5 separate regions of the Homo sapiens genome follow, and regions 1, 2, 4 and 5 are each linked to region 3. Evidence: fine-mapped QTL for protein levels in blood plasma. A gene starts in region 3. Each other region holds a variant in brackets. All regions are shown on one strand. Distances are from middle to middle.

Region 1 (6,241 bases), 41 kb after region 3:
TTGGACTATTACTGTGCAGCAGGCATTCGGACCAGTCCATCCTGTAACAGTCACCTGGATGAGGACACCATCTTGCCTGATTGGTTTCCCATGCCCTTATTTTGCTTCCTCTCTCATATCCTATTTCCTTATTCTTCTAATCCGTCTTCCAAAATGGCCACAAATCATTTTTCCAAAACCCCAATCTGCTCATGTCAATTGAATACTTGTTTCCTTAAAATCTTTCAGTTACTTCCATTGCACTCAGAATAAATCTCAACTTTCTCAGTTTAGAGCTCTTTCTTGGCTAGGCCTTTCATGTTCAGCCTCCAGCTTGCTTTTCTACTGATTTTTCTATGATCTCTAGTGTGAACTTCACAGGAAAATCATATCGGACTATTTGTACGTTTCTCAATGCTTCCAATTATCTCATGCCTTGCCACCTCAATGGCCTCAAGGCATCCTCAGACTCACAATAAAATCCAGACTCCTAATCATGGCTTGCAAGGCTCTGTCTAAACTGGATACCACGTCAACCTCATTCCCTACCTCTCTTTCCCTCCCTCCCTGCTGTAGCCATTGACCTCCTAGATATTCCTTCTCTTTTTTCTTTTCTTTCTTTCTTTCTTTTTTTTTTTTTTTTTTTTTTTTTTTGACAGATTCTGACTTTGTCACCCAGGCTGGAGTGCAGTAGCATGATCTCGGCTAACTGCAACCTCTGCCTCCAGGGTTCAAGCGATTCTCCTGCCTCAGTCTCCCGAGTAGCTGGGACCACAGGTGCGCACTACCACGCCCGGCTACATTTTTTGTATTTTTAGTAGAGATGTGGTTTTGCCATGTTGGCCAGGCTGGTCTTGAACTCCTGACATCAAGTGATTAGCCCACTTGGGCCTCCCAAAGTGCTGGGATTATAGGCATGAGCCACCGTGCTCGGCCTTCTCTTTTCTTTTGACTTAATTTTTTTTAGGGCAGTTTTAGGTTCACAGTAAAATTGGGAGGAAAGTATTGAAATTGCCCATATACTCCCTGCCCTAACACATGCGCAACCTCCCCTATTACCAATATCCCCTGTCAGAGTGGTATATTTGTTACAATTGATGAATCTATATTGACACATCTATCACCCAAAGTCCACAATTTACATTGGGGTTTACTCTTGGTGTTGTATTTTCTATAGGCTTGGACAAATGTAAAATGACATGTATCCACCATTACAGTATCATACAGATTATTGTAAGAATAATCCTAAAAATTCTCTGTGCTCCAACATCCTAGCTGTTTCTTGAACTTGCCAAAAAAATTCCAGACTCAGAGATTTTACATTTGCTGTTCCCTTTATCTTGAATGCTGTTCCTCTAGATGGTCAAATGTGTTAGTCTCTCATTTCAAATGAATTTCCACTTATATCTTGCCTCATCAACACCTCCCCTCTCCACTCTATGCATAACAACTATGGCCCCTTTCGTACCTCCCCCTATTATCTCCTGTATCTCCTTCATCAACTTCATTTCACTTTTCCCTATCTGATGTTATATTACATATTTCTTCTGTTGTTTGCTTACTATCTCTCTCCTCATTCTAGAATACAAAATGCACAAAGGCAGAGATTTTTCTTTTGTTCACTGCTGTATCCCCATTGCTTATATCAATTTCTGTATTTATTTATAGGTTATTTATTTATTTCTGTATTTATAGTAGGTATCTAACAAATACTAGTTAAGTGAATTAATGAATGAATAAACACAGGAATAAATGCCACCACTTCTGACTGTCTTTTTCCACTTGGTTAACTCCTACTCATCCTAAAGACTCAGGGTAGGCACCAACTCCTCCAGCAAGTCTTCCCTGACCGTCCGCCCAGGCTGGGATGAGGGCCCTTTGTTGTTCCTCTGGGCTCTCTCAGCCACCTGGACTGGCACCTCTATTGCAACACTTCTTATCTTGTGCCTCCTAACCCAATCTCTAAGCTTCTCTAGGGCAGAAAAATCTTATGCATCTCCCCCTCTCTCCAGTGCCTGGAAGAAAGTAAGTGCTCTGTAAATGTTCATGAAATGAATGGAAGAATGAATAAGTGAAAGAATTATAGCAGAATTTAAAATGTGCAAACTCTGATGTGCAAAATAACACAATTTTCTTTGTCATTAACTGATCTACTTTGCTCTTGCATCTCCATTCCTCCTGATGGTGAAAAATAATCCTTAAATTTGCCAATTAAAGGCAATTCAGTTTGCTTTGCAACTGAATTCAGTCTGCAACTGAATTCAGTCTGAATTCAGTCATGTTGGCGTTGATTATTGAAAAAATATCAATACCATTTCTCCCCTCATTCAAAAGACTCCTCCTTTTCTTCTTTGCCAAGATTGTATCTGGGTACAAGTGTGTATTTCTGCATCTCCATGGTCAAGAAGGTGGTGGGGAAGAGAGTACAGGTGAAGGTGGAACCCCTGGTCTGAGTTCCCTTAGTTCTCAGTGAATTCCAGAGGGTTGGCGGGTTTAACATGGTCCCTGGGCACTCTGAGTGGATGTCTACTGAGAGATTCATAATACCCGTGGTCTTCTGGGTGTCATCCATCTATCCATAGCCCCTGATGCTGAAGACTTCACCCTACTTTACCCTCTAGTTGTGAGGTTCCTGCTGTCTGTGGCTTCTAGCTCCTGTTCCCAGGACTGGAGCTTGCAGGAATGTTCTGTTTCTCTGCCCAAACTAGTGTGCAGCCTCTACGCTGTTGCCTCTAAGCACCTCCTTACTATGTCTGTACTGTGTTGGACATGATGCCATGCTGAACCTGAGAGTTGGGATTTTTTTCAGAGCTAGATCCTAAGAAATAAGAAACAGATGATTCTGCCCTGTTATCCCCACATCTCACTCATAAAACCTCCTGCTTCAGAGAGCTCAGCCCTCAGGTTGGGCTTTCTTCTCCCTCTGTCTCCACTGCCCTAAACCCCAGTACAAAAGGAGCTTTCTGTTACCCATTCCTGTCTGATAGATGCCCCTTTATTTCTTACCTTCCTTCTTTTGTGCTCTGTAGATTTCTATGTTCCAGGTGGTTTCCTCTGTTATCACACTTGGGCAATAAGCACCATATGGTGTAGAGATGCTAGAGATTCAAGAAAAAGGAAACTACCCTGGAGATAGTCTATTCAGATGAGAGGCAGGTGGGTGGATGGATGGATGGTTATTAGATGACTTGTCCCATATCATCAGGTCCTTATGTAAAGAGCCCAGGACTCCAAGCCAGATCTTCTGATCACTCTTTCCATTGTATCTTTTGGATTGAAAATCCAGTTCTCCAACTTCCCAACTTTCCCAAATGCCATTCATCCTGGAAAGCTTTCTCAGAGGGTAATTATGTGCTTGAGGACTCTGAGCTGTTCAGATGTGAGGACATGCGTCCCAAGATGCGCACAGCAGTAATTTGCCTTGTGGGTTTCCCAGTGCCCGGTGCTCTGTAGAGCCAGCTAATTAAAGGCCTTATCACAATTATGGAAAATCACAAGGCAGCAGTTTAATTAGATTTTCATGTGGAACTCTGTTTCATTCCCCTCATTTTTGCCTAAGATGTCTGAGAGTAGAATTGAGTCTAATGGCCATTAAAGTAGTGTTTGTTTTTATATTTAATTTCTTCTTCTCCAAAATCTTGATGCCTGAACCCTAAATGCCCAAGCAACGCTTAGATGTCTATTCAGCATTTCAAACTTAGTGTCCAAAATGAACTCCTGATTTCAACCCTATCTCTGTTCTTTCCCTATCTTCCCCATCTGGCAACACATTCTACTAAATCTTGGAATTAACTCTCCTCTTTTTCTAATTCCTCACATTCATTCCGTCAGACTTCATCACTTGTCTCTTCGCAATATTTTCAGAACCTGAGCTTCTCATCACCTCCAAAGCTACTACCTTTTTTCAAGCCACCATCATCTTTGCCTGCACTATTTCAAAAGCTTCTGACTGGTTCCTCTGCTGCCACTTTTGTCCACAGAATTAAATGGTCTGTGTGTGCCTGTGAGTGCACACATATAGCTTAGTCACTCTAACAGAGACCCAAATAAACAGTGGCTTAAACAAGACAGGAATTTGTTTCTCACTCATGTAGCAACCCGTGTGGAAGCAGTCC[A/G]GGACTTGTGTGTCAGGCACCCTGTTTTCATGGTTCCGCCCTCCTTAGGGTATTTCCCCTGCTCATAGGATCCAGTATTACTCACCCCCATGTCTGCTTTCCATCCAGTAGGGAGGAAGCCCTGGAGAAGAGGAAGGCATGCCCACTTCCTTTAACTGCCTGGCCCACAAATTGTGCCCACCACTTCCACTTGTCTGCCAATGGTCAGAATTTTGGCTAACAGCCACATCTAGCTACCTGGGAGGCTGGAAAATGCAGGCTATTTCTGGGCATCTAGGAGTCCAGCTAAGAATCACAGCTCTGTTGCTACAGAAAATGTCTTGAATGGATATTGAGGTTTCTGTCCTACTCATTCCCCCTGGTCTGTTTTCCCTACAGTGGCCAAAGAGAATAGCATAGAGATCAGGACATGTCACTCAGTAAATGACAGGATGGCACTCAACAATTATTTTTCTAGTGCCCCATTTAATAAATTCCAAGTCACAAGAATCAGGCCTCAATTCTAGTCTGCACTAGCTGGAAGAGACCCCAGAGAATATTTAGCGCATGGTTTTCAAAATGATTTTAGGCTATATATGTATATATATTTAGAGAAACTTTAATAAGGAAGCCTACTATGTTAAATGGGGAACAAGCTGGCTGCTATTTTTGAAATCAAGGGCAAGATGGATTCATTTGCTTTTTCTTTTCTGCTTTAACTCAAAGCTGGTTTAGATTCAAAGTCCCACTTCCAGAGGTGTTCGGACCACAGATTGAAACAATGAACTCCAGCAGAACATCTTCATTTTCCCTATGGGGAAACTGATGCCCAGGGAACAACAGGAGTTGTAGCTTACCGAGCTCAGTGCCTCACATGCTTGAGCTAACTTTCCCAAAGCGGGGATCCCGGCCATGGAAGAAAGCCTGCCTCATGACTGGCCACTCTCCCAGAAGCACCAGGCTATGTGCCCACCAGAGGGAATCCCAGCAGATTGATTCCTGCAATAACTTCATGCTCTCTGAAAAAAAAAAGTACCATACTCATGTTTCAGTACCTCCAAACTGGCAGTGGGGTTTCCTTTGTGGGGGAGGGGTAAGGAAGGAAACACTGGGAGGAGCCCTTCACTTCAGCTAAACCAGCTCTGAAAACTTGGCCAAGTCTCTCATTTACTTTGGTAACCATATCTGCTTGGAAGTGTTGCTGTAAAGATCAGAAAGAGATGAGGTCTACAGGCAACAATAGAGAGATGAAAGGGATTGTTTTTTCTGTGTGGGCCGTACAATATCCCACACTCTCATACCCTTGAGGGGCTTACCAGCTGAAGTGGAGACAGGAGAAGAAGGGAAGCCAAGAATCTCAGGTGCCTGGCACAGAATCAAAGGAGCAGTGGGAATTGTGCATGCTGCAGGAGGGACCAGGGCTAAAGTGGTGAGGACAGGGACACACTCCAGTGCTGGGTGGAAGAGAACCTGAGGGATAACATAGAGGTGGTGAAGGACAGGGCTCCCCACCTGGGGATCTTGTTAAAATGAAGATTCTGGCCAAGAGGACTGGGGAGAAGCCTGAGATTATTCATTTTTAACAAACTTTCTGGGGACGCTGAAGCTGCTGCTCCTGGTAACACCTTTAGTAACAACATAGAAAAAGAGACCCCACTGGTGCAGGGATCAGGCCAGCCTGAATTCCAGCCTCTCTTCTACCACCCAACAGTTGTGGACCTCAGGCAGCCTCGGGCCTTTTACCTTATAAGTGGGCACACTATTAGCAACTTTACACCAGAACCGCCAGCTTTCAGAATCCACTTCTCTCCTGTGCGGACAGAGGTGCAGACACATCTAGTGTAAAATGGGCCATCTGCAGTGACTCTCTCACTCTGTTTCTAGTCCTCCGCCAGCCCTCAATCCTACACACTTCCTCCCACCGCCTGTTTGTTTTGTTTTGTTTGATTTCATTATCTTCACTTCTCTGAAAAACAGAGGTAATACTGGCCTTTCAGGTTTGCTGGGAGGATTAGGTGAGCTCTTGTGTTCTCAGAAGCAATTAGACCCGCCCCCAACCGCTCCCATTGCCCTGCCCCTCCCCAGCCTAAGGTTTGTCCTTCACTTTCTATCACACGACCCCAGTGTCATCCCTAAGGCAGGGAACCTCTGCATCCTTTCCAGTCTTA
Region 2 (6,484 bases), 25 kb after region 3:
ATGGTGGGTATTCTCAGCAGGTACTGGGGATGAGGTGGGGCATCTAGACAGGCTGTGAGGCAGGGAACATCTTCTTAAGCAAGTGGAGTGTAACCCAAGACCTAAGGATGAGTAGTACTGGGCCAGGGGAAGAGGTAGAACAGAGTGTTCCAGGCTATGCAGATGTCGTCCACTGGCACTCAATATCTACTCCAACCTTCTTCTACCGTGTTAGTCTGGAAAGCTAAAAGCCACATTTTCTGGGTTTCTTTGTAGTACGTGTTCTGAATGTGAATTAGCTCCATCAGTCAGTGCATTCCTGCGGGATTTGGAAGATGGGGGTGCTGCAGTGGCCTCACCTCCCTGCTTCTGTGGCTTCTGCTGGTTGGTAAGCTCCTCATGGACGGAAGTCTGGCCGCCACAAGGCACTTCTTGATTTTGGTGGCTTCCTGGGTATTTCAGTTTCTAGGTTGTGGCTGTTTGCTGGTTTTGGTGGGTTTTTGATCCTGGCAGAGAGCTGCTGCAGGGGCAGCTTCCCAATTTGGCTGCCAGCTCCCTGATGGCAGAAGAGACAAAAGCACCCGAGGTGGCCAGATCTGCCTGCAGCTCTTGGGGTTGTCTTAGAGTCTCATTTTCCCGGCTTGCCATTGCTTCTGGAACCATGTAATATCCTGCAATAAATAAATCCCTTACTACTTAATCTAACTAGAATCGCTTCTCATTCCTATAACTGATCCCTAAACAACTTACAGACCATAGGAACCACATATGTGAATGTCCACTAGGAAGAAAGCTGGTAGCATTCCAAGGATGCCCCCATGCGTCTGGGACAGAGCCATTTAAGGGAAGAAGGACTGGAGGGACAAGAAAGTGCTAAATCATGGAGTGTCTTATTAAGCAGGCTAAAAATCTCTATTGAAAGGGCAACTGAAGGTTTTCAAGCTGTTTGACCCCAGAACCAGATTTGTACTTTTCAAACACACTGCCCACTAAGTGGAGAAGAGATGGAAGGCAGAGACTGAACACAAGAACACCAGTTGGAATCTATTGTGTTAGTCCTGGATTCAGAATATGCCTCATGTATCAATACTCAATTCCATGTTGAAAACAGGTAGTTAAGAGATTCTCAAGTTTATTTGTGTAAAAAATTAGATCTTTCTTACTTCATCTTCTATCTTATTCCAAATAGAGTGTGACCACCATTCTTTTCTTTCTTTTTTTTAAGATGGAGTTTCGCTCTTGTTGCCCAGGCTGGAGTGCAATGGCGCAATCTTGGCTCACTGCAACCTCTGCCTCCTAGGTTTGAGTGATTCTCCTGCCTCAGCCTCCCAAGTAGCTGGGATTACAGGTGCCTGCCACCATACCTGGCTAATTCTTTTTTCTTTTTCTGTATTTTTAGGAGAGACAAGGTTTCGCCATGTTGGCCAGGCTGGTCTTGAACTCCTGACCTCAGATGATCTACCTGCCTTGGCCTCCCAAAGTGCTGGGATTACAGGCGTAGGCCACGTGCCCAGCCGAGAGTGACCACCATTCTAACCATCAGTGTGCAATATTTCTTGGCAACCTTGTTGTGTCCTTCAACCCAAGGTCACAGCCACCATAAGGAGGCCCTCTCCATGGCTTTTGTTCTCTCTTTTCCTTCCTTCCCTCTCTCTCTCACTATGTATCCTCTGTTACAGTAACTATTCCTCCCCTGTTCCTTTTTCCCTAAAATGGCAATGTCTCGTGAGTTGTAATTAGCTCTGGGATCCTGTGCTATCTCTTTTTGCCTTGTGGTTTCCCTATATCCCACCCAAATCTTTCTAAGTAGTCCTTTTACTAAGCCCTTCTCAAATTACCTAATTTGAATGTGCCATCTGTTTCTTGCTGGGACCTTGATGGATACACTGGGTCATTTGTCATGTAGAATTCTCCTACATTTTGGGTTTGGCTAATTGTCTCTTTGTCATATCATTCAATACATTTCTTTATCCTCTAGATTTCCTGTCAACTGGTAGGTAGACCTAGAGACTTGAAGAGATCCAGATTCAAGGTGTTTTTGGCAGGTGGGGTGGGAACAACAATATTTCATAGGCGGCTTCTTTATACCTCTATAGCATCTCATTAGAACCCACATAAAATCTGATTGTCTAATTTTTTTTTTTTTCTGGCAGAAAGCTTGTTGTCAGCTTTCTTTTTTAATTTTTTTTTTTTTATTTTATTTTTATTTCAATAGTTTTTGGGGAACAGGTGGTTTTTTGTTACATGGATAAGTGCTTTAGTGGTAATTTCTGAGATTTTGGTGCACCTATCATCCAAGCAGTGTACACTGTACCCAATGTGTAGTCTTATCCCTCATGCTCCTCCTCCCGAGTCCCCAAAGTCCCCATCATTCCTATGCCTTTGTGTCCTCATAGCTTAGCTCCCACTTATAAGTGAGAACATATGATATTTGGTTTTCCATTCCTGTTTTACTTCACTTAGAATAATGGTCTCCAATTCCATCCAGGTTGCTGCAAATGCCATTATTTCATTCCTTTTTATGGCTGCATAATATTCCACAGTGTATATATATACCACATTTTCTTTGTCCACCCATTGGTTGATGGGCATTTAGGCTGGTTCCATGTATTTACAATTGCAAATTGTGCTGCTACAAACGTGTGTGCAAGTGTCTTTTTCATATAATGACTTCTTTTCCTCTGAGTAGATACCCAGTAGTGAGATTACTGGATCCAATGGTAGTTCTACTTTTAGTTCTTTAAGGAATCTCCACACGGTTTTCCATAGCAGTAATACTAGTTTACATTCCCACCAGCATTGTAAAAGTGTTCCCTTTTCACCACATTCATGCCAACATCTATTATTTTTTGATTTTTTAATTATGGCCATTCTTGCAGGAGTAAGGTGATATCTCATTGTGGTTTTAATTTTCATTTCCCTGATAATTAAAGATGTTGATCATTTTTTCCTGTTTGTTGGCCATTTGTATATTTTCTTTTGAGAATTGTCTATTCATGTCATTTGTCCACTTTTTGATGGGGTTATTTGTTTTTGTTTTTCTTTCTTGCTGATTTGTTTGAGTTCCCTGTAGATTCTGGATATTAGTCCTTTGTTGGATGTATAGTTTGCAAATATTTTCCCCCATTCAGTGGGTTGTCTGTTTGCTGATTATTTCTTTTGCTGTGCAGAAGCTTTTTAGTTTAATTAGATCCTATCTATTTATTTTTGTTTTTGTTTCATTTGCTTTTGCATTCTTGGTCATGATCTCTTTGCCAAGCCAACATCCGGAAGAGTTTTACCAATGCCATCTTCATCATTTTTATGGTTTCAGGTCTTAGATTTAAGTCTTCAATCCATCTTGAGCTGATTTTTGTATAAGGTGAGAAATGAGGATCCAGTTTTATTATTCTGCATGTGGCTTGCCAATTATCCCAGCACCATTTGTTGAATAGGGTGCCCTTTCCCCATTTTATGTTTCTGTTTGCTTTGTCAAAGATCAGTTGGCTGTAAGCATTTGGCTTTATTTCTGCATTCTGTATTCTGTTCCAATGGTCTATGTACCTATTTTTATACCAGTACCATACTGTTTTGGTAACCACAGCCTTGTAGTATAGCTTGAAGTCCAGCAATGTGATGCCTCCAGATTTTTTCCTTTTGCTCAGTCTTGCTTTGGCTATGTCGGGTCTTTCTTTTGGTTCCATATGAAATTTCAGATTGTTTTTCCTGGCTCTGTGAAGAATGATGATGGTACTTTGATGGGAATTGTATTGAATCTGTAGATTGCTTTTGTCAGTATGGTCATTTTCACAATATTGATTCTTCCCATCCATGAGCATGGGACGTGTTTCCATTTACTTGTGTCATTGATGATTTCTTTCAGCAGCGTTTTGTAGATTTCCTTGTAGAGATCTTTCACCTACTTGGTTAGGTATATTCCTAAGTGTTTTATTTTATTTTTTGCAGCTGTTGTAAAAGGGAATTAGTTCTTTATTTGTTCCTGAGCTTGGTTGTTGTTGGTGTATAGCAGTGCTACTGATTTGTGTACATTGATTTTGTATCCTGAAACTTTACTAAATTCATATATCAGATCTAGGAGCATTTTGGACGAGTTTTTAGGGTTTTCCAGGTATACATCATATCATCGGTGAACAGCGACAGTTTGACTTCCTCTTTACCAATCTGGATGCCCTTTATTTCTTTCTCTTGTCTGATTGCTCTGGCTAGGACTTTCAGTACTATGCTGAATAGAAGTGGTAAAAGTGGGCAATCTTGTCTTGTTCCAGTTTTCAGTTTCAGTTTTCCATTTGTCCCCATTCAGTATAATGTTGGCTGTGGGTTTTTCACAGATGGCTTTTATTATTTTGAGATAAGTCCCTTCTATGCCAGTTTTGCTGAGGGCTTTAATCATAAAGGGATGCTAGCTTTTGTCAAATGCTTTTTCAGC[A/G]TCTATTGAAATGATCATATGGTATTTGTTTTTAGTTCTGTTTATGTGATATATCACATTTATTGACTTGCATGTGTTAAACTATCCCTGCATCCCTGGTATGAAACCCACTTGATCATGGTGTATTTTTTTTTTTTTTTGACATGCTGCTAGATTCAGTTAGTTAGTACTTTGTTAAGGATTTTTGCATCTATGTTTATCAGGGATATTGGTCTGTAGTTTTCTTTTTTTGTTATGTCCTTTCCTGATTTTGGAATTATGGTGATACTGGCTTCATCAAATGATTTAGGGAGGATTTCCTCTTTATCTTTTGGAATAGTAAGATTGGTATCAATTCTTTGAATGTCTGATGGAATTCAGCTGTGAATCCATCTGATCCTAGACTTTTTTTGTTGGCAATTTTTAAATTACTGTTTCAACCTTGCTACTTGTTATTGGTCTGTTCAGAGTTTCTGTTTCTCCTGATTTAATCTGGGAGCATTGTATATTTCCAGGAATTTATCCATCTCCTCTACATTTTCTAGTTTGTGTATGTAAAGGTGTTCATAGTAGCCTGGAATGACCTAGTACTTCTGTGGTATTAGTTGTAATATCTCCTGTTTCCTTTCTAATTGAGCTTACTTGGATCTTCTCTCTTCTTTTCTTGGTTAATCTCACTAGGTCTATCAATTTTGTTTATTTTTTTAAAGAACCAGCTTTTTGTTTCATTTATCCTTTGTATTTCTGTTTGCTTGTTTGCTTCAATTTCATTTAGTTTTGCTCTGATCTTTATTTTTTTCTTCTGCTGGGCTTGGGTTTGGTTTGGTCTTGTTTCTCTAATTCCTTGAGGTATGACCTTAGATTGTCGATTTGTGCTCTTTCAGACTTTTTGATGTAGGCATTTAATGCTATGGACTTTCCTCTTAGCACTGCTTTTGCTATATCCCAGAGGTTTTGATAAGTTGTGTCACTATTATCGTTCAGCTTAAATAATGGTTATTTTTTATTTATTTTTATTTATTTATTTATTTTTTTGAGACAGTCTTGCTCTGTCGCCCAGGCTGGAGTGCAGTGGCACAATCTTAGCTCACTGCAAGCTCCGCTTCCCAGGTTCACGCCATTCTCCTGCCTCAGCCTCCAGAGTAGCTGGGACTACAGGCGCCCACCTCCACACCCGGCTAATTTTTTGTATTTTTTAGCAGAGACAGAGTTTCACTGTGTTAGCCAGGATGGTCTCGATCTCCTGACCTCATGATCTGCCCACCTCGGCCTCCATATTTGTTTAATTTTTATCTTGATTTTATTGTTTATCCAAAGATCATTCAAGAGCAGATTATTTAATTTCCATGTATTTGTATAGTTTTGAGGATTCCTTTTGGAGTTAATTTCTGGTTTTATTCCACTGTGGTCTGAGAGGATACTTGATATAATTTTGATTTTCTTAAATTTATTAAGACTTGTTTTGTGGCCTATCATATGGTCTATCTGTGAGAATGTTACAGTGCTGAAGAAAAGAATGTATATTCTGCAGTTGTTGGGTAGAATGTTCTATAAATATCTTTTAAGTCCATTTATTCTAGAGTACAGTTTAAACCCATTGTTTCTTTATTGACCTTCTGTCTTGATGACCTATCTAGTGCTGCCAGTGGAGTATTGAATTCCCCCACTATTACTGTGTTGCTGTCTATCTCATTTCTTAGGTCTAGCAGTAATTGTTTTATAAATTTGGGAGCTCCAGTATTAGGTGCATATATATTTATGATTGTGACATTTTCCTCTTGGACTAGTTCTTTTATCATTACATAATGTCACTCTTTATCTATTTTTACTGTTGTTGCTTTAAAGTCTGTTTTGTCTGATATAAGAATAGGTACTCCTGCCCACTTTTGGTTTCCATTTGTGTGGAATATCTTTTTCCAACCCTTTACCTTAAGTTTGAGTCCTTATGTGTTAGGTGAGTCTCTTGAAGACAGTGGATACTTGGTTGGTGGATTTTTACCAATTCTGCCATCCTCTCTCTCTTAAGTGGAGCATTTAGGTCATTTATATTCAACGTTAGTATTGAGATGTGAGGTACTTTTCTATTCATCATGTTCGTTG
Region 3 (6,380 bases):
GACCTACACAAGGAAATCAGTCAAGTGTCCTCAGGAGGCTCAGAAGGCAGGCTGCAACTTGCTGGGCAAGCCACACCTGCTCCTCACATTCCTTCCAAGGGCAGCCCCAGGTCTGAGCTCTCGGCAGTGAACCAGTGAACTGTAAGGTATTTTTTTGTTTGTTTGTTTGTTTGTTTTTGGTGGGGAGGTGGGTGGAATCTTGGAGGCAGCTGCTCAATCCCTGAAGATAGCTGGTTCTTAAGACCCGACCCCAGCAGAGGAAAGCTGATTTTCAGAACAGAAGCATGAGGGGGCTCTTCCTTGGAAGAAGTGAGTAAAAAAAGGCATCTTAACCTGCTGGCTACCCAGCAGGAACAGGAGGAAATAAGTATAATGGAGACATGTGGCTAGTTTTTACAGCTAATAGGTAAAACACATCTTTAAAGCACATTAACAGTAAAAATCTTAGCTACACAAGGCAAAAGTCCCAAGCCCCATATTTGGTATATGCAGGGTGTGTGTTCATGAATTTACTCAATGTCTTTCAAATCTCAGTTTGCTGACATGTGACATGGATGTAATCTAAACAATTTAAAGTACATGAAACTTTCACTAAGCACCAGATTGTTTCAGACGCTCATATCAATTACTTCATTTAATATTCATAATAGCGAGAGAGGGATTTATAGTTTCATTTAACTAATGAGGAAACAGGGGAGGTAAGTGACTTCCTGACCCAAAGGAATAAGATTTGACCTCAGGTTTGTCAACATTTGGGTTACTTCCAGTAAGTCAATGGCTCAAAGAAGATTATATGTGTGAAAACGCTTTGCAAATTATAAATGCTATAAAGTGCAAGAAGTCACAGTCCTGAATTAATGCAGAAACCTAAATATCATCCAGAAGCAACATTCTGATGGAGTAAGGGGCTTTTTCAGGGAGTCTGCTTTGTTCAGTTGCCCACTGGATCCTTTATTTTCCAGGCAGACAAGTGAGTTTTTAAAAGTGACTCTTGAAACAATGAGGCTTTCTGGTTCCAGCTGTGCTACAGAAACATTAATCTTGAGAATTCACTTGCTCTTTTCATGTGTGAAATGCGGGGTTAGGTCACAGGTGATCACCAAGGTCACTTCCGTCAAAGCACTTCAGTGACTCAGAAGTGGAAAGCACCCAGTGAGACCTAGAGTGGGGAGTCTCACTCTCATTGTTAGAGAGCCAGTTCTAACTTCAGGTACTTGGGCCACCCTTCCTACTGTAGGAGAGCCTGCTCACATCCACCCTCTCCCCTTGGTAAGTCTTATTTGACCCTGGAAGGAAGTTTGGAGCCTGGAGGAGTTTCTCCCTTGATGAGTGGCAGCAGACTTTGAGATCTCTGGCAATCCCACAGTATCCACTCCACCAGCGCATAGCAGCCACAGCCCTAAGTTGAGAAGCCAGTAGCTGAGAGCTATCTCTCCCCAATTCTTACTGGTGTTTCAGTCTTGGGAGGTCCTCATAGACTGTAGAAACAGGATGGGAGGAGGGGCATGAAATGGATTCCAGGGGAAGAAACTGCAGTCCTGGATCTAGCTTAGCTGTTGCTGAATATGTGATATACCAACCACTCCCTTCCTTTGTACACACCTAGTGTTGTATCAGTTTCTCAGTTACTGTAGTAACTTGTTTACTTGTGGGGTACCCCACAGTCACACACATAAATGAACGTGAATGACTGAAAAGTAAGAGATAAGTGTAAGAGGGACAAGTGGCTAGTTTTTACAGCTAATAGGTAAAACATATCTTTAAAGCACATTAATAGTAAAAATCCCTGGGTGCAGTGGCTCACACCTATGATACCAGCACTTTGGGAGGCCGACGCAGGTGGATCACCTGAGGGCAGGAGTTCAAGACCAGCCTGGCCAACATGGTGAAACTCCATCTCTACTAAAAATGCAAAAATTAGTTGGGCATAGTGGTGGGCACCTGTAATCCCAGTTACTCAGGAGGCTGAGGTAGGAGAATCGCTTGAACCCAGGAGGTGGAGGTTGCAGTGAGCTGAGCTCACTCCACTGCCCTGCAGCCTGGACAACAGAGCAAGACTCCATCTCAAAAAATATATGTAATAAGTAAAAGTCTTAGGAAAACAGCCTGTGCACACCCAGCAAAAGTGTAGGGCCCACTGCAGACTGGCTCTAATTATGTGGGAAAGTCGTTTAATCTTAGAGCCACAACGCTTTGAGATTAAGTGATTTGCTCAAAGGCTAAATGGAAATAGTACCACTTATTTCAAAGTAGGGCTGGGATTCAAAGGAGGTACAGCTCTTGAACTAGAGTTTTCTGTCTCCATTGGTGATAAGCCTTGTTTAGAGATGACCAAAGACTGGCACTCTTTTTCATAAAAGCAGCTAGTTTTAGCTTCCTCCCTCAAGCTCACCCTCCTGCAGTTTGAAGGAAGTTTCCAAATAATCTTATTTAGAAAGAATAGCATTTACACTGGCCAGTTAGGATATCTTAGGACACACCAGAGTAGCAACATGAAACACCCACTTCTGGGGGAAAAAAAAGTGTTATAATTTGAAATAAAAAAAAAATACAAGTCTTGGGAAATTAGAGACCAATGTGATAGAAATCTGGAGGGACTTTTCACAAATGCCGACTTCTGGTTTGTGCCTTTCCCATATTTTATTAAATTCGTGTTTTATTTTAAAAAATTACAGCAACATTATCAAAGACAACATATGTACAAACATTTTACAAAAAAGAACATTACCAATATCAGTGGCAGTAAGGGCAAGCTGAAGAATAAATAGACTGAGTTTCCGGGCAATGTCTGTCCTCAAAGACATCCAAACTGCGTTCAGGCAGCTGAAACAGGCTTCTTTCCCAGTGACAAGCATATGTGGTCAGTAATACAAACGATGGTAAATGAGGCTACTACATAGGCCCAGTTAACAAACTCCTCTTCTCCTCGGGTAGGCCATGATACAAGTGGAACTCATCAAATAATTTAAACCCAAGGCGATAACAACGCTATTTCCCATCTAAACTCATTTAAGCCTTCACAATGTCGCAATGGATTCAGTTACTTGCAAACGATCCCGGGTTGTCATACAGATACTTGTTTTTTACACATAACGCTATGCCATCCCTTCCTTCACTGCCCCAGTCAGGTTTCCTGTTGTTGGACCGAAAGGGGATACATTTTAGAAATGCTTCCTTCAAGACAGAAGTGAGAAAGAAAGGAGACCCTGAGGCCAGGATCTATTAAACCTGGTGTGTGCGCAAAAGGGAGGGGGAAGGCAGGAATTTGAAAGGATAAACGTCTCCTTTGCGCCGAGGAATCAGGAAGCGTGACTCACTTGGGTCTGGGACGATACCGAAATCCGGTACCCCACCCCATCCCCTGCCCCGCCGGGTACCTACAAGCTCGGTTCCTTTCTCAACTCCCCCAGTTCCTTGATCTCCACCTTCTTGTACTTCCCCGACTTTCTCCGGTTGGTGATCACCAGGACGGCCATGCCGGCGACGAGGGCCACCACGACCACCACGATGACGGCGATGAGGCCGGCGGTGAGGCGCTTCATGGAGAACTTCGGGGGAATCTCGTCCAGGTAATAGATGAGCGTGCGCTCCACCTGCAGGGGTTCTCCGCGCACGCGCAAGTCCAGGCCGCCGCGGCCCTGGAATAGAGACTCGCCCTTGATGTCCCTCTCGAAGTAGTAGGCGGCATCGCCGATATCCACGTCACCGGCGGCCTTCTGAGACGTGTTCTGCCGCAGCTCGATCTGGATGGTGGGCTGCTCGTAGTGCACGGCCGCCACGAACTTGGGGTGCAGCCGATAGCGCTCGCGGAAGAGCCGCCTCAGCTCGGCGTCCAGGTCTGAGTGGTTGAAGGCGCCGGCGGTGGGGCGGTGGCGCAGGTCAATGAGGATGTGGTGGGTGCGCACCAGCTCATCGCAGCGTAGGCTCAGGTCGCCCTTGTCCGTGCGGCGCACGCCCACCGAGTTCACGCACCAGCACACCGACGTCTGGTTGCACTGGCGCGCCTTGAAGCGGCCCTCGGGGTCGCAGTCGGGGTCGTAGAGGCCATCGTTGTCCACGAGCGCGTGCTCACTCGGCCGCACCAGCGTGCGGGCGTTCTTGGGGGCGCTCATGCGCGCCTTGAGCAGCAGACACTTGGAGGTCAGCGTGGAGCAGTCGACCGCCATGCCCGAGCCCAGCGCGCGGCACTGGCAGCGGCCGCCGGGGCCGTCGGGGCTGCACACGGTCATCTTGTTGGTGGGACACGTGCAGTTGTCCTGCGCGGCCGTGTGGCCGGTCACCGCCGCCAGCACCAGCAGCAGCAGCGGCAGCCGCAGCGGTGGCGGCGCGAGGCCGGGGCCCCGAGCCATGGTGGGGCGGAGGAACGCGGACCGGACGCGGGCGGATGAGGCGCGGGGACTCGTCGGGGCTCGGGCTCCGGCGTCTGGGATGGTCTGCAGGCGTCTGCCGCCCGGCCGCTCCCTCCGGCTCTTATACTCTACCCGACCTGCCCGGCTGGTTCCACCACCGACCGTCCCCACTGGTATTTGGGTGACACATCCCGCCCCCCTCCCCGTCCCACGGAAGGCCAAGCCGGCCCTGCGCCGCCCGCGATAGGATCAGAACAGGGAAGCTGCTCCCGCCTCCTCCGGACCGAAAGCCGGGAAGGGGAGAACCGATACTCACCTGTAGGCTTCTGGGGACCCGCCCTCGGCGCGGCCTCCTGCTACAGACCTGGCGCGTCTGGGCCGCTCTCCCGGCAGAAAGTCTAAAGAGTTTCATTGCAAAGTGTGGCTCGCGACTGTCGCGCTCTCCTCTATACGCGACTCCCTTTTCGTTCTTTCCCAGCCCCAGCCCTCCCTTAATTTCTCTCACTCCCTCTCTTCTTTGTCCAGTTCTCACAGTAGCACACGTTTATATAGTTTACAGTTCACAAACATTATCTCATCCTAACACCAGTCCTGACAGGTAGGGACTATCAGACCCGTTTTATAGGTGGTACTGATGAGGCTTAAAGACCTGAAGTCACACTGCTATCAACTTCCTCATATTTCTGAGAGGGGTCTTTGGCACCCTGCCTAGGAGTGATGAGACCTTAAATAAAGTGTTTGTGGACACGAAGTGACACAGAATCTGAAGGGAAGTTAGGGAAGCAGTTCTGTTACTCACCATATCAAGGGTAAAACACAGGTATCCTGGTGTCCAGAGGGTTAAAAGTTCTGTTAAACACTAATTTTCTGTACCTCACACAAGCGCACACACACAGGCACACACGCACATAATATTTATTTGTGCACTGGCTATAAAGAGACAAACAGGAACAAATTCTTAAAGAGCCAGCAAGACTGTAAAGAGTTTTTTGTACAATTTGATTCTAACACAGCAAATCGTTGCTTTTCTTTTCCTGTATCCCACGTAAGTAGCTGAACCATGTAAATAATGAAAGAATGGAGCCTGTGAGAAATTGCTTGTCTGCCACTGTGTGGCTAGTTTCATGGCATACAGGGGTTGCAATCTCTTTTTGAGTCATTGAGAAAGTCTAGAGTTTCAAAGCTGTGGTAAAATTAACAATAATTAGCAAGCTATAATTATTCCCAGGTCCTCCATCAAAGCACATTTTATATGTTCAGCATTTAATGTGCACCACCAGTCGTGCAAGGGTGTTGTTTAGCAGATGAAAGCCAGCTGGGCCTCTGTCCCATTAATTTTCACGCAATTCCTGAGGCAGGAAGATTGAAATATATTCTGCCTTGACAGACAGAGGAAGCAGAGACATGTGAGGGACAATTTCTTTTTTCTTTTTTTTTTTTGAGACGGAGTTTTGCCCTTGTTGCCCAGGCTGGAGTGCAATGGCGTGATCTCGGCTCACCACAACCTCCGCCGCCCAGGTTCAAGCAAGTCTCCCGCGTCAGCCTCCCGAGTAGCTGGGATTACAGGCATGAGCCATCAAGCCTGGCTAATTTTTTTTTGTATTTTTAGTAGAGACAGGGTTTCTCCATGTTGGTCAGGCTGGTCTCAAACTCCTGACCTCAGGTGATCCGCCCACCTCAGCCTCCCAAAGTGCTGGGATTACAGGCATGAGCCACCACGCCCGGCGAATTTTTTTTTTTTTTTTTTTTTTTTTTTTTTTTTTTGAGACGGAGTCTCGCTCTGTCACCCAGGCTGGAGTGCAGTGGCATGATCTCAACTCACTGCAAGCTCCACCTCCTGGGTTCATGCCATTCTCCTGCTTCAGCCTCCTGAGTAGCTGGGACTACAAGCGCCTGCCACCACGCCCGGCTAATTTTTTTGGTATTTTTAGTAGAGACGGGGTTTCACCGTGTTAGCCAGGGTGGTCTCGATCTCCTGACCTCGTGATCCGCGTGAGGGACAATTTCTTATCCACAAACATGAGGAATTGT
Region 4 (6,484 bases), 85 kb after region 3:
TCAAAAGGAAGATGAGTACAAAGGAATCAATCACTGCCTTTCACAGAATCACGCAACTTCGGAGCTTGGAAGGGAATACTAAGCCATAAAATTCAGGCCCTTGATTTACTGGTGAGGAGCATGGGGTCCAGGTTATGTGTTTTGATTAAGGTCACACAGCAAAGTTGGTAACAGAGTTAGGGTAAGAGCTCAGGTTTCCTGACTTTTGGTATAGTTCCTCTTACACTCTCAGCCCTCAAACTAATTGTTTTATAAGCTATACTTCACTGTTTATCCTAAGTGCACACAGAGAAATGGAAAAATACTACCCTTTTTTTTTTAAATGTATGTTAATTTGGAAACTGTATTAACTCAAAATATAAACTTCACAAGAGTAGTCCAACGATTAGAATGAACAATAAAATTTTAGTTCTGGAAGGACATTAAGAAGTTAAGTTAGACTTCAGTTACACAAGAATTAAGGCTCAGGGAAAGTAAACTGTATCTCCCCAAATCACAAAGTTGAGACAAGAACCAGGTCACCTAAAGCTGACTCACTGCTTCTTCCAATACTCCTTATTCTTCATTGGCTATTGATTACAAACAAAGCAAAATATAGAATCAATCTGATTTAGATATAAGGAAACGTTAGTAAGAATGTTTGGTGAATAGCTATAAATCAATTCTCTGACTACTAAGAAATAAACTAAAATCTACTGAATTTCAATAAATGAGGCAGCATTGACTGCTTATTTTATTTTAAAATTGGCTTAAATGCAGATCATAATTCTGAGTTTTGGTGTCATTTGAAGATGACGTAAAGCTTAACAAATGTAAAACAAAATTCTAATGTTTAAAATTCTCTAGATCAAGGGTTGGAGAATAATAGCCAACAGCCTATGTTTTATGAGGCCTGTGAGTTAACAATGGTTTTTATCATTTTAAAGGGCTGTAAAACACACACACACACACACACACACACACACACACACAAAGAAGAATGTCTCATAGACATCATATGTGGCCTGAAAAGCCAAAATTATTTACAAACTGGCCCTTTACATTAAAAAAGTTCACTGACCTCCATTATAGATTCAGAAAGCATATGAAACTGGGCTGAATATGTAACATGTCCTGAAAGGCTTGTTTTAAAAATTAAATCTCTGATTTATTCCAGCTTTATTATCATTTGCCTCTTTCTCCTAGTAGTAGGCAGTAGAAAAAAAGTTTGAGTTATGATTACCTATGTTCCAGTTAAATGAGGTTTTATCACACCTACTAATGTAAGTGGACTCACAATTGAAGCTAATTATTTTATGTGTGTAAAATTGGTTAAAAATTTTCAGATAGCTGAGAAAATGGCATATCTTATGATACTACTGCTATACAATGAAATGGAAGATAGTATCTATGATTAGAAACTGGTAATTTAGTTCTCTCCTTTGGGTTTTTCCTGTTTTTAAGATTTTCTTGTCATGCCTCTCCTGGTCTCCTGTTAGATTTATTAATCAGTAGTTCTAAACCATATTAATTATCTCAGTGACCACCCATCCATATCTCATTTATAGCCATAAACAAATCTCAGCAGAATATATGGAAAGAATGGAAGTGCTTTTAAATGAAATAGGAGATACCACAATGGAACATAAATGACTAGTTCAGGGAAGAAATGACTTAGAGACATAGTCCAAATCCCAAGCTGAACACAACAGTAAAGCCGACCAGGTTGCTTAGTTTCACAGCCTACAGCATTGCTCAGTAAAGGACTAGAACACCGTGGTGGACCCTGGTTTGCAGAACACTCTGATAATCACTATATGAAAACAAATTTGTATCTCTTCCTTTTCACATGATTTATGTGGCAAAGTTTGGATTTTGTGAAATAGAGAAAAAATACCAAAGCTGTGCCAATGTTAACTACAATCACTTCAAGTTTATAACTTTGAAAGTAAGATCTACTGTGTCAAGATTAAAATGTCTTAACTTTAAAATAATCACATTAACAATTCCTTTGTACAGTTCTCTTCGGTTACTCCATTCTCTTGGTTGCTTTTATAATTGGAAAGGAACAAATTTTCTATTTCAGTCAAGAATTCTTCAGCCATAAAGCAATTGGTCACTTTGCTCAGAGTCTTCCTCATACACTCCAAAAGCTAGTTGAAAAGAAAAGTTTTATATTTAAATACAGAAAAAGTATGAGGGTTTGCATTACTATCACTATTTCGTCCCTTTCCAGACCTCACATTTCCTAATGCTCAAATGAGAAACACTCTCCTTAAAAATGGTTGAAGATTAACTTGTGTTTAATAGTCACAGAGCTGGAATGTAGGAAATTGCTGCTGAGGAACACTCAGCTTAGTACTTTTATGATTTTACATAAGGAGACAAACCTGAGATTGTTTATGTGATGCTTTCTACTTCGGACGTATTTGCGACTTTTCTCCATTTGTAGTTACACTTACAAAGCAAAATAATCCTGAGTATACACACACACAAAAATCTAGGTACATAAAAACATAGGATTCTGCATTTCAAAATGAGGATGCTAGCTGGAGTCTATTTCCTTGGAAATGTGCACATACTTTTTCAACAACACACAAAAAACTGGATATAACAGAAAGGAGTAAAACATATTAAAAAGAAACTTAATGTTTAAATTTTCTATCCCCAATTGCTATTTAAAAAGACAAATGTTGCAGATCTACTAGCCTTCAATCATTACAGAAGCAAAACCTAGAC[G/A]TGAACTGACAGAATTCAAAACTCTTATTTCCTATTAGAAAGTTAAATAAAATGACTATTTAAATTTAATTGTTAGATTTATACCATCATTCTTAAAAATGACCAATTGTTAAGGCTAAAATGGAAACATGGCACTTTCAAATTTAATAAAATAAGAAAAATGTTCTCCATTGTGTATAATAATAATCTGCTAAAATCAGCCAACACTGACAAATTTATTCTAAAATAGAATTTTTTCTATGTGCAAGCTTGGGCAACAAAAAACGTTACTAATTATCTCCTAGAAATTAATTTTCCAAAGGAAAAAGTAATAAAAGAAATATACAGAAAATTATCCACAAAGTATTAGGCATCATGGGAAAACACATTGAGATGAATAGCTTCAGAATCTGTGAACAATGGAACCAATTAAAATGAAGACAGCTTACTTTCTGCAAACAAGTCAGGTCAGAATCCCGGCGAAAGATTTTATCCATGGGGACGCTGCTGTAGGAAGAAATATGAAAACAAACTGGTGAAACGAATACTATAAACTAATCAGTTTCATAATAAACTATCACGGATGCCATACATCACAATTTTATATTTAACTTGGGTTTTCTCTGAAACATAATTTAATGAGCAACACTGCAGATGTGCAACCATCTCAAACCACAGTACATACCTATGGGAGAGCCTGTATTTTTCTATTATCCATCTTGTCTTTTCAAATACTAATCCCCACTGAGGTTCTTCTAACATCTGCTGTACTTCAAATTTGTAAGGTAAGCCTAGAAAAGCATAAAGAAGCACATTGTCATCAACTATTTCTTAACTCTCCAATCTCCTTTTAATTATACTTAAAATTCCCTTCGGTGTTTTTACAGCCATAGCTTTGCAGATCAGCTGAACAGCACTTTAAACATAGTGGGCATTCATTAAATATTTATTGCCCGATTGTACTTGGTCCACTAAGCATATTAATGCCAAGCTATTAATAATAATAATGAGTAAAAGTGCCATTTACATGACAATTCTACGCATGGCACTATGATGGGATGATCACGTAATTTATCACCTAAACCAAGAGACTTTTTGAATGAAAGAAGGTACTATTAATAATTATGCCTGAACCGCAGGTTTAAAGTGGGATTATCCTAGACAAACTAAGACATATTGCCATCCTAGTGATAATTAAAAATATATATATATACAGGTTATTAAGCTTACAACAATGCTGTAAGTTATTGTTTTTTTTTTAACAGGTGAGAAAACTGAAGCTGAGATACATTAAAAATCATATTTAGGCTAGCAAAGTGGCAGGACACAGATGTTAAAACCCAGCAGGTTTGCCTCACTTCTGAGCCCAAACTCATTCCACCTCCCTAGAAGAGCTAATCTAAGACTAGACAAGAGGATAGGATGAACTCTGGGGAGGCAGCAACTGCTTTGAGTCAAAGTTGTTATACTAAACTCTGGAGGAAAGAAAGAAGCCCAAGGGGTGAACATCATATATTCATCTAGAAAGGAAAAAATACCAAACGATGAGTTATCTTAGCAATTTTTCACATATCCTTCAAGACCCCCATGCAAATGCATCTATAGCATTTTTTTAAAAGCTCAGCTGATTCACTAGCAAAGGCTGATACCATCATAGTAACACTTATAATGCATACTATGTGCCACCTAAAACTTAATGTGAAATCACTTAAATGAAGTAGCTGCCATTATTCACCCCCCCCTTTTTTTTTTTTCGATGAGGACACTACGTCATAGAAAGGTTAACCTGCTCATGATCAGATATAAAAGGCATTGGCAGGATTTGAACCCAGGCAGTCAGGCTCGAGAGTTCTGCTTTTAACTTATACATAATACTGCCTCAACTGGGTTTCTACCATGGTAAGGAATAAATAAAATGCCAGCAAATCAGAAGGCATGGAAAAAAAAAAGGGGAAAAATACAATTATTTCCTCACAATGAAATAAAGCATAGCTTAAATGTCAATATGCTCTAAAAAGGCATTTTTTCAGGTGTTTGGAAGGAAAGGGGACAGCAAGCCTGATGATGATGACTGATCTTTTTTATTTAATTGCTCAATTTTCCTCTTCTCCAAAAACTTAAGAAGAGTGACACACTATAGTACACGGGGTATTAAGCAAACTCCTTATGGTGATAACAGTCATTTACTTGACATGCTTTGATTACTTACTAAACATGGATACCATCTATATAATGATAACCACCCACTGAAAACCTATTATTTGCTAAACACTTTACATATATTACTGACACACCTTACAACCATATACCTACTGTAAGCAAGGTAGTAATTTTTTCTCATTTTACAGATGTAGCAAAGGAGAATGAGGGAGTAGACTGCCCAAGGTAAAATAAGCAATAAATGTCAGAGCTGGGATCTGAATCCAGTAGAGTGACTCCTACTCTCAATGAAAGTTGAAGATGAAAATAAAGAGAGGTAAATAATGCATTTTCAATCTATGCTGATGCAAAAACATGAAAACATACACACAAATTATATACAGGTCTATTTGGTATTTTTAAGAATATTTTTTAAGTTAAAAAAGGTACTTTTAAAGTCAATAAGTTTCTTTTATAGAGAATATTTTTATCCACTAAAATATCAGAAGAAAACTGATCACTAAATATATTTCCTGCCTGTCACAAGTAAAGAAAACATTAAACCATTAGAGATATTGTAAAGATATGACCTGAGTTAAAAGTACTGTAGCACAAGGTATCCCATGGCTTCTAGAAAACCTTAATTCTTGCACCAGAGGATTTCTAAGGGCAAAGCAAAAGACCTAGGATTAAGATCTAATACGCAGTGTTAAGCATGGACAAGTCATTTACAAGACAGCTCTGTCCAATGGTAGCTCATGGGAGCATCATGGATAGTTCCCTCTAATGCTTTCAAGTAGTTCTTTCCCATCTGGGCTAGTTTATTCACATACATGTGCTGATCTGTACTTTGCTAAATACTCCAGGGATACTCTTCTACAAATCTCCAGAGTTCACTCTCCATTCTGCTTTCTGTTCTCTTGGGGCTCTGTCTCACAAACTCAGCTGTCTTGGTCTCCTTATCTCCATCACCTTAATTGAGTCGGCCTGGCTCTGGGTGGGTTTCTCCTTCTTGTGCCATATCTGAAAACCCTCTTAAGCAGTAAGCTAGGGTAATGTGGGGCTCTTTTCATTTGTTTCCCATCTCTTAGCAATCGTATTCCTTTGCTGCTAAATGTTGTGTTTAAATACCATTATTTTACATATTTTGTCCAGTTTTTTGGTAGTTTCAGACAAGTTCTTTTTACTTCATTTTGGCCAGAGTAGAATTCCATGAACTAAATTTTAAATTTCATGTAATTCTAATCAACTTACATTTAAAGTCACACGTACTGCTATTGTACTGGATAGCATCAGAATTGAGGTTCATTACCAAAACCTAGCAGTCTGTGAGATTATAAAATCAAGTCAGATGATGATTTAAAGATGGTTTAAAAATGATTTAAAGAGAACAAGTTAATTGCGATTCTTTTTATAAAACTGTACTGAGCTAAAGAATAATATGTATTATGTGCTATGCTCAAAATGGACATTCCAGACTAAAAGCTAATACCAATATTATTAATTCAGTAAAAACCCATAGTGTTGACCACCTCCTAGATGCAAAGCAATTTATTAGGTGCTACTTGAGAAAAAAGACAAATAAGACACAGTCCCTGCTCTTTGGGCATACAATTTATTAGGACTTGCTAAATAGATAAATTGCATT
Region 5 (6,484 bases), 32 kb after region 3:
ATGGTGAATTCTCTCAGCATTTGTTTGTCTGAAAAAGACTATCTCTCCTTCATTTATGAAGCTTACTTTTGCTGAATACAAAAATCTTGGTTGACAATTATTTTGTTTCAGGAGGCTAAAGATGGGACCCCAGTTGCTTCTGACTTGTAAGGTTTCTGCTGAGAAGTCTGCTATTAATCTGATAGGTTTTCCTTTCTAGATTATCTGATGCTTTTGTCTCACAGCCCTTAAGATTCTTCCCTTCACCTTGACTTTAGATAACCTGATGATTATGTGCCTGGGTGATAATCTTTTTGTGATGAATTTCCCAGGTGTTCTTTGAGCTTCTTGTATTTGAATGTCTAGATCTCTAGCAAGGCCAGGAAAGTTTTCCTTAATTTTTCCTTCAAATAAGTTTTACAAACTTTTAGATTTCTCTTCTTCATCAGGAACAGCAATTATTCTTTGGTTTGGCTGCTTAACATAATCCCAAATTTCTTGAAGGCTTTGTTGATTTTTTTAATTCTTTTTTCTTTGTCTTTGTTTGATTGGGTTAATTTGAAAGCCTTGTCTTTGAACTCTGAAGTTCTTTTTTCTACTTGTTCTAGTCTATTGTTGAAACTTTCCAGTGCATTCTGTATTTCTCTAAGTGTGTCTTTCATTTCCAGAAGTTTGTAATTGTTTTTTTCTTTATGATATCTGTTTCTCTGGAGAATTTTTCATCCACATCCTGTATTTTTAAAAATTTCTTTAAGTTGGTTTTCACCTTTCTCTGGTATCTCCTTGAGTAGCTCAATAATCAATCTTCTGAATTCTGTATCTGGCAATTCAGAGATTTCTTCTTGGTTTGGATCCATTGCTAGGGAGCTGGTGTGACCTTTTGGGGGTGTTATAGAAACCTGTTTTGTCATATAATCAGAATTACTTTTCTGATTCCTTCTCATTTGGGGAGACTATTTCAGTGGAGAGGTCTGAAACTCAAGGTCTGCTGTTCAGATTCTCTTCTCCCATGGGATGATCCCTTGATATGGTGCTCTCTTCCTCCCCCAAGGGATGGAGCTTTCTGAGAGCTGGACTGCAGTGATTGTTATTGCTCTTCTGCGTCTGTTATTGCTCTTCTGGGTCTAGCCACCACATGGATCTAGGGATTGTTTTTGCTCTTCTGGGTCTGGCCACCATGTGGGGCTATGAGGCTCTGAGCTGGTGGTCTGAAAAAAGTCCTGTGATGTGATCTGACTTCAGGTCTACAGCCATGGATACCAGCACCTGTTCAGTGGAGGTGGCAGGGGAGTGAAATAAGACTCTGTGAGAATCCTTGGTTGTAGATATGTTTAGTGCACTTGCTGAAGTGGCATTGTTGTCTGGGGTAAATACACAAGGTTTGTTGCCTCATGCCAAGGAAATCAAGGACATGAACACATGTGGAGTGAGGTTAAGAGCATAGGTTTAATAGGCAAAAAAAAGCGAAAGGAAAACAGCTCTCTCTCCTATGAGACAGAGGGGTGCCTGAGTGGGACTTCAGGCCTGCATCAGTGCACCGGATTTTATAGACAGGCTTGAGGAGGCAGTGTCTGATTTACACAGGGGCCAAAGATTGGTTGGACCAGGTGCGCACATTTATTTACATAGCGCATGGGGAAGCTGGCCCCCACCCTAATCTTATTATGCTAATGGGGTCTTTACTTTATTATGCAAATGGCGCCACGTTGTCTGTTCCTTGCTGTAGACATGGTTGATAAGGAAAGGGGAAGATGGAGCCACCATGTTGGACATGCCTAGCCCTCAGGTAGCCTTTTCCTAATGGCACAGCTGCCAGCATTCACTCATGCAAGCTTCCAGCTTGCTTGTCTATGTCTGCAGCTCCATTTTACAGGCTGCTCTTTGTTAGAAAAGAAGATTATTTTGGATCTGCTTTTCATTAAAAGGAAAACCTTACCAAAGACTCTCTTACCCTCGCTTTCTGCCTAAATAATTTCTTCTTAACTCCTATATCGTCGCTTTCTTGAATTCTGGTTCTATTAGCAGTGAAGTTGTCACATGGACACATTCAAAACCTCTGGTTACCCAAGATGTTGCAGGCAGTGGAATTAGGTGTTGTCTTCTCCTTTCTGGGATCAGGGTTATTCTGTCATGAGTTGCTGTAATAACCTGA[GT/G]TGGTTGGCCTCCAGCCAATAGGTGGCACTTCCAAGAGAACACCAGCTATGATAGTGGTAGGGAGCTCTAAACTTGCCCTAAGATGGCCAGGGTAAGTATTTTGGTTTCTCAGGTAATGGGTGGGGCCATAAAGCTCCAAAGAATGATTATGTTTTGTGTTCAGCTACCAAGGTGAATAGGGAAATACCATCAGGTGGGGACAGGGTTAGACAGGTCTGCACTCAGATTCTCCTTGGGTAGGGCTTGCTACTACCCAAGGCCACTGTGGTGGGTGGGTGGTGGTTCTCAGGCCAATGGGACTACGTTCCAGAGGGGATTATGGCTGCCTCTGCTGTGTCCAGGGAAGTGGTGGATAGCTGGTAGTGAGAGGCTTCATCCAGCTCCCATGCACTTGGAGAGATTGGTCTTCCACTACAGTGCCCTGCTCAGACCTTGCCCCAGGCCATGAGCTACCCAGCTGAGAATCAGCACAGCTTCCAGACCTCATCCCTCCCCATCTGCTCACTCCATTGGTGGTAGGTCCTGTGCTCACTCATACCAGCAGCACCTGATCATCCCCCAGACTCCACTCAAGAAATTTGTGCCCAGTCCACTACCAATTTCAGTTGGGACCTTTCTTCATCCCACAACACCTTCCCAATTCCACTGACTGCCTTTCCCAAGGGCCCCAGTGAGATATAGTCAGGGATGGCTTCCCTGGGCTCAAGCTGGATACTGGGAATATGTGCAAGGTACTTCCCACTGCCACTTCCACTTTTATATTTCATGCAACCCCCTAAATCTGTTTCATCTCTAGGTAAAGTTAAATCCTTCTCATGTGATCTGGATTTTCAGATTCCCCAGTGGGGATATGTGTTTGGAGGTAGGTTTGCCTCCTCTCACACTTTGGGAACTCACAGTTTTTTTTTGCCTGTTTCATGGAATTTGCAGCAGTGTGCAACTTCTTTCAAAAAATCTGTGAATTCCTTTGGTTTTCCCGGTACGTTCCTGTGGTAGTTCTTGGAGCAAAAGATCATGGTGTGAGTCTGCACACACTGTTCTGTCCATCCATGTGGGAGCTGCACATTAGCCCTGTCTCCTATTCATCATCTTCCCCCGTTCTTGTCCTGATTATCCAATTTTGAGTGCTGTTGAGGTTGATCTGTGGGTTCAGGTGTTTCAGCTGTAATGATGGTATTATAAAGTTACTCATCAATTTTCACCTAATGATTTTTTTGCAGTCACTGATGATTGCTGACTACATCCACTATTTCATTAAAGATTTGCAAAATAGTGATTTTCTAATTCTACCCTTCATTCTGCACCTATTAGCTGGGTTTTTCAATAAAGAAGAACTTTCCCTCATCAACCAAAAAGCTTCTTGCAAGGTTTTCTTTTTGGTTTACTGTGGGTTCATTAAGATGTGACAGATACGACTAGATGCAGGGACTTCAGAATGCTTTCCACCGTTGCTCCCTCACATATATACTCTTGTCATCATGTACTTTTATTCTACATATTATTATTGTTGTTTTCATTTCAATGTTTCACTCCAATGTTCATTTATACAATCAGTGAAAAATATTCCCCATAAATTAATATTTCTTTCTTTTCTTTCTTTCTTTCCTCTTCTTTTTTTTTTTTTTTTTGACAGGGTCTCACTCTGCCATCCAGGCTGGAGTGCAGTGGCATACTCATGACTCAATGCAGCCTTGATCTCCTGGGTTCAAGCGATCTTCCCACTTCTCACCTCAACCTCCACAAGTAGCTTGGACCAGAGGTGCATTCTACCATGTTTGGCTAATTTTTTTTTATTTTTTGCAGAAATAGTGTCTCCCTGTATTGCCCATGCCCTGTATTACCTCAAACTCTTGGGCTCAAGTGATACTCCCACCTAGGCCTCCCAAAGTGCTGGGATTGCAGGCATGAGTCACTGTGCCTGGCCAAATTAATCTTTTTCTTTTCTGCATTCTTTTCTGTGTCTCTTCATTCTTTTCTGCATCTCTGACTTCCAATCTGGAATCTGGTTTCCAGCCCTAAATTTCCTGGCTTCAGCACTGGCAAATTCTATTTTCCCAGGGAGGGGAAAAAAAGTACCTGACCAGGCCCAAAGACTTCATTTATTTTCTTCATTATTTTATTTACCTCTATAGGGGCTTTTTCCAAGTCACCCTCAATGGGATTTCCTTTACTCTATCTTCTGTAACAGCCAGAGCACATCAAATACATAGAAGCTGGCATTCTAGGCCATAGTAATTGTTCAGTAGGTACTTTATCTTGTTTACTTTGTTGGATAGCCTTTCTTAACAAACTTTCTCTGATATCTCAGTCTCAGATACAAGTCTCCCTGCCTTTAACCATTGTATCAGTTAGGACTTGCATTAACTGCAAACAAGTAAAAACTCAACCACATTTTACAGTTAGGCATTACACATATGCACACATGTATGTGTACACACACACACACACACAGAGAGAGAGAGAGCGAGAGAGAGAGAACTCTAGAACTTCTAGTCCCATGGCTTAAAAGTGTCAGGACCACTGACTCCACATTTTTCCAGGCACCTTCCTAATGCCTGTGAGTCAGCTAGTATTGCTTCAGCCATGACATCTATATTCCAGACAAAAAGTAGAAGGAAGAAGAAGAAAGGAAATGTCTCTACCTGTATCAGGTATATCAACCAGACTGAGAAATCCCCACTAGTCCGTTGCTTACACCTCATTGGTCACAACTCAGTCAAATGGCTACCTCAATCTGAATGAGAGGCTAGAAAATGTGTATATATGTGTTAGTTGTGCACTTCGCTATCCTAAACAAAACTGCAGTTCTGGCAAGGAAACATTGACTTTGGGTTGACAATCAACAGTTTGCCCTCTCCCTACTCTTCCCTTGGCATAGGATGCCCTTCCCTCCTCCCCACCTACTGAAATCTTATTAGAATATCACCTCTTCCAGGAAGTCTTTTCAGGTTATCTCAGTAGGAATTTTCTTTTAATTCTTCAGTTTAATAAGCAATATCTTGTTTGCCTAGTAACTGCAAGGCGCTACTAAGATACTATAGATGGAGATAAGTAAAATAGCGTTACTGTCCTGATAGAGCTCAGTTTACTTTTAGTATCTAAAAATCAGACTCCAATTATTATTTAATGATTACAGAGTTTCTATTTGAGGTGATGAAAAGGTTTTGGAAGCAGATCATGAGGATGGTAGCACAACAGTGTGAATGTACAACTGACCCTTAAGCAACATGGGTTTGAATTGCATGGGTCTATTTACAGAAAGATTTTTTCCAACCAAATGCAGATTGAAAACACAGTATTTGCAGAATGTGAACCCAAGTGTAAAGAGGGCTAACTTTTCATGTATATAGGTTCCACAGGGCTTGACTACAGGACTTGAGTATACAGGATTTGGATATATGTTGGGGGCAGAGGAGTTCTAGAATTAATCCCACTTGTATACTGAGGGGTGTCTATAATTAACACCACTGAATTGTACACTTCAAAATGATTACAATAGCAAATTCTGTGTTATATATATTTTATCACAGACAGGCAAATCGGACTCCAAATCCAAAAATGCCAGCATGGTGTGAAAATACAGACAGAAAGGAGGTATGGGTGTTGGGGTGCATAGAAAAGTCATTTAAATTACCTAGGCATTGGATCCTGTTCTGATGCTGTCTATTAGTTCATCTTCACACTGCCATAAAGACATATTCAAGACTGGGTAATTTATGAAGAAAAGAGGTTTTATTGACTCACAGTTCTGCATGGCTGGGGAGGCCTCAGGAAACTTACAATCATGGTGGAAGGGAAAGAGGCATGTCCTACATGGAAGCAGATGAGAGAGAGTGAGCAAGAGCAGGGAAAACTGCCCTATAAAACCATCAGATCTCTTGAGAACTCACTCATTATCATGAGAACAGCATGGGGGGAAGTGCCCCCATGATTCAATCACCTCCCACCTTGTCCCTCCCTTGACACATGGGGATTGTGGGGATTACAATTCAAGATGAGATTTGGGTGGGGACACAGAGCCAAACCACATCACACTGCTAGTTCTGTCTACTGAGAAGCAGATGCGGAGATGCAGTTAGGACAAACAGGCATATTTGGGTAAACTTGTGAAAGGAATTTCTTCTACTTTCACAAGAAACTTCTTTTCTTAGAAGCAGGACTGGTCAGAGGAAGCCATTAAACCGTGAAGTAGATCAAGTAGAAAAAGCCTCTCTGCCTAAAGGGGAGCTCTAGAGGAAAGAGCCCATTACAGGAATCCTGCTTTGGGTGGAAGTGCCTAAACCTTGCTCAGTCATTGGCTGGGGCTGCACTGGGAAGAACTGAAGGAGACCAGAAAGAACAAGTGGAAGCT

Alleles and levels. Positions count from the first base shown, and alleles are read on the strand shown. Strength reflects both the effect of a copy and how common the allele is.
As copies of A replace G in region 1, the plasma level of the protein whose gene starts at base 4,445 in region 3 goes down (moderate association).
With allele G in place of A in region 2, the plasma level of the protein whose gene starts at base 4,445 in region 3 is higher (moderate association).
With allele A in place of G in region 4, the plasma level of the protein whose gene starts at base 4,445 in region 3 is lower (moderate association).
For the plasma level of the protein whose gene starts at base 4,445 in region 3, G is the low allele of the variant in region 5 and GT is the other (strong association).

Evidence for each region. PIP is the posterior inclusion probability: the model's chance that the variant is causal. The UK Biobank Pharma Proteomics Project read protein levels with antibody pairs (Olink). The fine-mapping took linkage between variants from a reference panel, not from the people measured, so its PIPs are less certain.
Region 1: its variant is fine-mapped to the plasma level of the TACSTD2 protein (UK Biobank, PIP above 0.99).
Region 2: its variant is fine-mapped to the plasma level of the TACSTD2 protein (UK Biobank, PIP above 0.99).
Region 4: its variant is fine-mapped to the plasma level of the TACSTD2 protein (UK Biobank, PIP 0.97).
Region 5: its variant is fine-mapped to the plasma level of the TACSTD2 protein (UK Biobank, PIP above 0.99).

What each region holds. Positions count from the first base shown.
Region 1 is chr1:58,614,373-58,620,613 of GRCh38, forward strand. No RefSeq gene overlaps it. Among named protein-coding and RNA genes, the nearest start is that of TACSTD2, 40 kb to the left of the region's middle. The variant A/G (reference allele first, on the strand shown) is at 4,095.
Region 2 is chr1:58,597,814-58,604,297 of GRCh38, forward strand. No RefSeq gene overlaps it. Among named protein-coding and RNA genes, the nearest start is that of TACSTD2, 24 kb to the left of the region's middle. The variant A/G (reference allele first, on the strand shown) is at 4,406.
Region 3 is chr1:58,572,808-58,579,187 of GRCh38, forward strand. TACSTD2 (tumor associated calcium signal transducer 2) reads right to left here and starts at 4,445. Exons shown (of 1, transcript NM_002353.3): 1 at 2,626-4,445. The coding sequence starts at 4,349. The coding sequence ends at 3,378. RefSeq lists enhancers at 923-1,122, 1,273-1,362, 3,213-3,908, 3,909-4,603.
Region 4 is chr1:58,658,024-58,664,507 of GRCh38, forward strand. It overlaps MYSM1 (Myb like, SWIRM and MPN domains 1), which reads right to left. Exons shown (of 20, transcript NM_001085487.3): 18 at 3,383-3,488; 19 at 3,147-3,204; 20 at 1-2,132. The coding sequence ends at 1,974. Among named protein-coding and RNA genes, the nearest start is that of MYSM1, 39 kb to the right of the region's middle. The variant G/A (reference allele first, on the strand shown) is at 2,719.
Region 5 is chr1:58,604,451-58,610,934 of GRCh38, forward strand. No RefSeq gene overlaps it. Among named protein-coding and RNA genes, the nearest start is that of TACSTD2, 30 kb to the left of the region's middle. The variant GT/G (reference allele first, on the strand shown) is at 2,132.